Homo sapiens: one gene and its partner. The protein of the gene in region 1 purifies or fractionates together with the protein of each later gene. This does not show direct contact. Each region holds a gene or a part of one and is shown on either strand. Other genes may lie near its edges.

Region 1 (3,500 bases):
GTAAAATCCAATTTATCTCAACTAGTAGAATTTTCAGCACAGGTCTACAATCCCTTACGTAAAACCTTTGGAAAGCCAAATGTTTCAGAATTCAGAAATGTTTAGATTTCACGACAGTAATATGATACGGTATATACAGGATATACCATGCAACACTCTCAGCAGGTTCTGAGGCAGCACTAATAAAAATAGCAATTCTGCAGCAAAACATAAATATTTATAGGAAGCAGGCAAAGAATAAAAAAAAGTATTGGCATAAGTCAGGTTTTGCCACCAAATGAGTTTTTCACAAACTTATAATATTTCAGAGCCTTTTGGATTTCACAATAGTGATTACAGACCTGTACTATTAAGGAGATATTTTGGTGAAAAGGTTTTCTTCCTAAATAAAATCATTCAATTTATTCTATCAGGGAATAGTGAGGAATGTAAGGCCTTAGAAAACACTTTCTCCATTCTCATTCTTACTACTTAATCTTGACCACCTCATTTTCTTAGTTTGGTTTGTTCTAACTTTTTTGGATTTTCCTTTCAAATCTCTAAAGTAAAAGATGCCAACTATAAGTCAAATGACACAATGGTAGTCAGAACAAAAGATAACAAATCCCTCCACAAACCCCGAATCTTCCTCACCTTTGCCCCTCCAACCTTTTAGGCTGGAATCTTTTAGGCTGCCTTGTCTAATGAAGGCAGGGTAACTTCTACTGCTAAGTATCCAGGGTCTCAATATTCACTTTCTCAGCTTAAAAACACATGGCAAAAATTTTTGTAGATATAGATCCTGATTCAGATCTGAGGCACAGAGATCAGATAACTCTATTGTTTAAAGGTCTTCAGCCTGATTCTAATGCTCACCAAAGTTTGAGAATTATAGTCCTTAAGGTAGGCCTACCTGCTGAACTCAACCCCAACACTTCTGGGCCAGGGATGCTCTCCAGCAGAGAAACAAAAACGCCCAGCGCCTAGATTACAGAACTACATCTACTAAATAAGGAAAAATAACAGGGACAAAAACTAAAAGAAAATTCCTAACTGGAATTTTGCTTCCTAATCAAATTTTGGAAGGATGGGAAGAGAGGTGGCCATAAAATATGTTAAATAGTTGCACAGTTGTGCTTCTATTCAAAATAGGTAGAAAAACTGCAATGCTGAAAACACATCTACAAATAATTATGAATTAAGTATGGACTAAAATTTAATTTGGAGACAATTTCAACATTATCAAAAAGTTAATTCAAAGGCGAGTCTAATATTTCATCATCCTCCTAGAGGATCATCTATTCAGTCTGATTTTTTTAAAGCTAATTTTATTGTTAGCATTGATAGCTAACAAATAATTAAGCTTAAGTACTGCTAAAGCAAAATAAAATTTCATACCAATATATGCTTCCAGTTGTGCCTTTCATCTATATATTCATATGAACACAATTATGACAAATTATCTTACAGGACATCCTACACAACAGATTTAATAAACAATCCAGTTTTGTAGTCAATTCTAGAAAAACCAAAATAGTTTGAAATAAGCAAGTTATTTTACCTTTTTCTTTAGCATGAATGTCATCACATATGTGTAGATCTAGATGAGAAATCACTAAATGATGGGAGGTTTCCTTAACATCAAAATCATTGAATAGTTTCACAATTGCATCATTTACATCAGGAGCATTTGAAGTTTGCGTTGTCTTCACTTGCTGGGCAGATGCGACTACTGTAGAGCTCTAAAAAGATTCGAAACTGCCTTATCACTGCCAATTTAAATACTGGAAATTTCACACAAAAATCTAAGTATTTTCAGTCGAAAGTCATGAAAAATAACCATAGTACATCTTATTTTTCATCAATAATATATTTTCCCTAAAATATTTTCTGAATTACCTAAGAATAAAACTAAAATTTAAAAACGGTAAAACTAGGCTCATGCCTGTAATCACAACACTTTGGGAGGCCGAGGCAGGCGAATCATCTGAGGTCAGGAGTTCAAGACCAGCCTCGCTAACATGCTGAAACCCCATTTCTACTAAAAATATAAAAAATTAGCTGGGCGTGGTGCCGCATGCCTGTAATCCCAGCTACTTGGGAGGCTGAGGCAGGAGAATCACTTGAACCCGGGAGACAGAGGCTGCAGTGAGCTGAGACCGTGCCACTGCACTCCAGCCTGGGTAACAGAGCGAGACTCCATCTCAAAAAAACAAAAACAAAAACAAAAAAACAAACAAAAAAACTGTAAAACTATACACAAATCAAATATGAACCCAATATATCTCAGTAAATATCTGAAGTTATATTTAACATATTTATAGCCCTTGTTTTAGAAAATGTAGTTAACTCTTAAAGGCAGTTTATTTGAATATTATATATATTAAAAACAAAACAAATGTGGGCCCTGTATACACTGTTATATATCTGATATGGTTTGGCCCTGTGTCCCCACCCAAATCTCATCTTGAATGGTAGTCCCACAATTCCCACGTGTTGTGGGAGAGACCTGGTGGGAGATAATTCAATCATGGGGGTGGCTTCCCCCATACTGTTCTGGTGGTAGTAAATAAGTCTCACGAGATCTGATGGTTTATCAGGGGTTTCTGCTTTTGCAGCTTCCTCATTGTTTCTTTGACTGCTGCCATCCATGTAAAATGGGACTTGATCCTCCTTGCCTTTCACCACGATTACGAGGCTTCCCCAGCCACATGGAACTGTAAGTAGATTGCCCTGTCTCGGGTATGTCTTTATCAGCAGCGTGAAAAGGGACTAATATGATATCCTATAGAAATAAAGCACATCTTTGTAGAAGCCCCTGTGATATTATTTAGTACTCTAAGTGCTCTGGTGCCTCTCCTAAAAGATGTGGTATGTCCTTTGAACTTGAATAACTAAAGAAGCCAGAAAGGAGACAGGATTTATAAATAGGTTGTGAGTTCAAATATTTTTCTCCCTGAAGAGAAATAGTATAGAACCCTGTTGATATATAAAAATAAATATGAACCTCTAATAGCCTAAAATTATTTTGTATACATAACTATAATGTAAGATTATCTGACATATGAGCCACAAAACTGTAGATGAATTTTTATAATAATTATAAGACCAAATTTTCCACTTTAAAAATTAACAATGTTCAAATTTAGAACAAGTTATTAACTAAAGATAATTAAAGAAAATCAAAGTATATGTATTTTGCATGTATATATATTTACACATATTACATCTATGAAGAACTATGATCATACTGTAAAAGAACTGCAAAGTATACTTAGTAAATGAGAATCTCTTCATGAAAATGATTGCAGCCCAAGGTAAGTAAAGAAACAAAGTGAAATATAGCTGTAAAACGTTAAATACTATAGACTCCAGAAAACTTTTTATTAATTAATTGTTAAACTGATATCAAACACTTTTTCTCCTGCTTTTCCCATTTTCAAAGCTATAACAAGACTGTATTTATGTCTATGATGGTGCTATTTAAAATACTCTCCGGTACTTCTTTCATTATGTTTTCT
Region 2 (3,500 bases), on another chromosome or scaffold:
TTCCCCTGAAACAACGAAAAAGAAGCTGTCTGTAGGAGGAAGTGGTGCTCACACCTGCATCCCACCTGCCCAAACTTGAGAGAGAAAATAGAACAACCCCTGATTTTACTGCCAAGTTCCACGCTTGAGCTACAGCCTCATTGCTTTTAATATTAAAAGGTGCAGGCCGGGCATGGTGGCTCATGCCTGTAATCCCAGCATTTTGGGAGGCCGAGGTGGGCGGATCACCTGAGGTCAGGAGTTCGAGACCAGCCTGGCCAACATGGTGAAACCCCGTCTCTGCTAAAAATACAAAAATTAGTCGGGCGTGGTGGCATGTGCCTGTAATCCCAGCTACTTGGGAGGCTGAGGTAGGAGAATTACTTGAACCCAGAAGGCGGAGGTTGCAGTGAGCCCAGATCACGCCACTGCACTCCAGCCTGGGTGACAGACCGAGAGTCCGTCTCAGAAAAACAAAAACAAAAAAAATGGTGTAATTGGGATCCCAGACGATGGCAGCTTTGACACTGCCTTGCCCAAAGGTAGGGGGCAGAACAGGCCCTCAGTTCAAGATCCTCACTTATGCAAGGAGAATGCTGTGTGCTAGTGGTTCCACACTTACCTCTTGCTTTAGCAGTTGCTCAGCCTGACTCCGAGTCATGTGTTTGGAATACCACCTGTGAAGGGAGAGTGCTGCTTGAGTGGCTCCTGGTCATAAGCAGATTGGAGGTTACAGCACCCTCCAGGGCTTGTCCATGTCAGTGATTCAGTCAACTCACTCAAACCCTATTTACTGAGCATCTGTCATGTGCATAGCACACTGTATCCCTTTCCCAAACCCAGGTTGGCATTGAAGATTCATGGAAATGGAGAGTAGCAGGCAAAGGCAAGCAGCAGGGAGTTGCAGGGAAGAGATCAGGGACTAGGGCACTTGAGAACAATCCACTTCCATGATTAGGGAGGAAAGGACAACAGTAGCAGTTTGACATTTTAATTCTTTCATCAGGTCGTCAACTCCTTTTTCTTTGAGTGTGATTCTTCTGGATTTGAGGGCATGGTGACCTCTCCAGCTCTCATAAATGGAGGGTGTTTGGGGGGTAAAGGTAAGACAGATACACTAATTTGAGGTGGTGGCATCATTTGATTCAGATGGTACTAATTTTAATATATATCTTGAAATAAAAAATATGTTGAAAGTAGAAAAAAGTGTATATATATATATACACACTTGTGTATGTATACATAATATACCTATATATACACCAGTGTATGTATACATATGTATACATATATACACTTGTGTGTGTTATATATATATATAAATATATATAAAATATATATAAATAAATAAATATATATATATATAGAGAGAGAGAGTTCCTCCTGGAAGATTGTGGACTGACATAAACATACTTACTCATACATTTCTATGGAGTCTTCTGCTTCAGTGACATAGTTACTAGGAATGTAGCCTTCCTGCCTGTGAAGGAAACAATGTGGCAGTTCATCCAGCACCTCCCCAGCCTCCAGGAGACAGATTCATATGCCCACGTCCCTGAGCTCAGAACAAATCTCAAATGGAGGTATATGTATCATGCACCTCCCTCAAAGACAATCATGTCTCTGATGCATGGTTAGGCAGTGAGCCAGTGAGGTGCAGAGCTTATGCACATGTTGCATTGGTTATATGTGCCCAACAACAGAGGCTCAGAGATGTGGCAGAGGCCATGTATAGGGAGCTGCACGCTGGGAAGTACTTGGAGGGAGAGCATGTTCAGTCTGGTGTGGGAAGAACAGTCTCTGATGAGGATGCTGATCACGGGAATTATGCCGCAGCACTTTTTGCGTGTAGGGAGTGGGCAGGCACCAGGCTCAGGAAGGGCTGGTGTGGACTCACCCATTTTTATCTCGTGCTCTCCACCATGGTAAGTTGCTTTCCTCCAAGATAAAATATTCATCACCCTTCCGCAGCTGTAGATCATTTGCATTCATTGGCATGTAATCATAAAGGGCCACAACCTTTTTCAGCTCACTTGTGGAGACTGGTGCTGCTGCTGGCTCAGGCGGTAGTGGCTTTTTCAAGATCTATGTAGTTAGGAGAAAAGGTAGGAGGGTTTGTCAAGATACCAAGCACTCTTCTCTTCTCTCCCAACTCTCTGGCTTACTCAAGACACCCAAATCAGGCATACTAAAATATTACTCAGCAGTCATTCAACAACCATTTTTAAGCACCAGTGCAGGAGTTCTCAGCCTTGCACACATATAAAGACCATGTATGGAACTTTTAAATTCCAATGTACTTTCGGAGGCCAAGGCGGGCGGATCAGTTGAGGCCAGGAGTTCGAGACCAGCCTGGCCAACGTGACGAAACCCCATCTCTACTAAAAATGCAAAAATCAGCTGGGCATGGTAGTGTGTGCATATAGCCCCAGCTACTCAGGAGGCTGAGGCAGGAGAATAACTTGACCCCAGGAGGCGGAGGTTGTAGTGAGCCAAGACCACGCCACTGCACTCCAGCCTGGGTGACAGAGTGAGACTGTCTCAAAAAAAAACCCACAAAAAACAAAAAACCAATTCCAATACCTAGTCAGTTTCCTCACAGACCAATTACATCAAAATCAAACTCTCAGGAATGGGACCCAAACATTACTATTTTTAAAGCTCACTAGACAAAAACCATTTATAGCTAAGGTCAGGAAACCGGCTTGGCACTAAACTTGTACGTGAATCTACTAAGTGGCTCAGAACCTTGGTTTCCTTCTTTGTAAAATGAGTATAATAATACCTGCTCTACTTACTTACAATATGTGAGAAAGGGCTTTCTAGCCCTCAAGAAGGAACCAAAAAAAAAAAAAAAACTTCTGAAGTGTTAGTGATAGGTGGTGTTAGTGCTAAGTGTTGAGTATGTTGGTATTAAGTGTTAAATTCTTCTAACTTTACTGTATGTTTGAAAATACTTTCCAGCTGGGCACGGTGGCTCACGCCTGTAATCCCAGCACTTTAGGAGGCCGAGGCGGGTTCGAGACCAGCCTGAACAACATGGTGACACCCCCATCTCTACTAAAAATACAAAAATTAGCTGGGCGTGGTGGTGCATGCCTGTAATCCCAGCTACTCAGGAGGCTGAGACAGGAGAATCACTTGAATCTGGGAGGCGGAGGTTGCAGTGAGCCGAGATCATGCCATTACACTCGAACCTGGGCGACAGAGCGAGACTCCGTCTCAAAACAAAAACAAAAGCAAAAACAAAACAACAACAAAAACTTTACATTAAAAAAATCAGGTTTTGTTCTAAACAGGTGATTGGATTACATGGTTGCTGAGAGCCTTCTATCTTTCCATCGAGGAGGAAATCCTAATTAGAAGAACAAATCCCCCATCTTAGCAAGAATACCAATTAACACTGCCAAGTCCCAGGGTAATTCTAAGACTCTAGTGTGTTCTTAGGGCTTGACTATAAGTTTCCATTTAAGCAGTGGCAGCACCCAGTTTCCCTGTATACCTGGTCCTCCTCAGGCGTT

The links.
Region 2: the proteins of BLTP3B (region 1) and BTK purify together in Homo sapiens (co-immunoprecipitation; one large-scale study listed by IntAct). This does not show direct contact.

The regions. Positions count from the first base shown.
Region 1 is NC_000012.12:100,087,375-100,090,874, forward strand, and holds part of BLTP3B (bridge-like lipid transfer protein family member 3B), read right to left. Parts: intron 1,722-3,500; coding exon 1,541-1,721; intron 1-1,540. UniProt on the Homo sapiens protein: Tube-forming lipid transport protein which mediates the transfer of lipids between membranes at organelle contact sites. Required for retrograde traffic of vesicle clusters in the early endocytic pathway to the Golgi complex.
Region 2 is NC_000023.11:101,358,692-101,362,191, forward strand, and holds part of BTK (tyrosine-protein kinase BTK), read right to left. Parts: coding exon 3,482-3,500; intron 2,065-3,481; coding exon 1,877-2,064; intron 1,460-1,876; coding exon 1,397-1,459; intron 657-1,396; coding exon 602-656; intron 6-601; coding exon 1-5. UniProt on the Homo sapiens protein: Non-receptor tyrosine kinase indispensable for B lymphocyte development, differentiation and signaling. Binding of antigen to the B-cell antigen receptor (BCR) triggers signaling that ultimately leads to B-cell activation.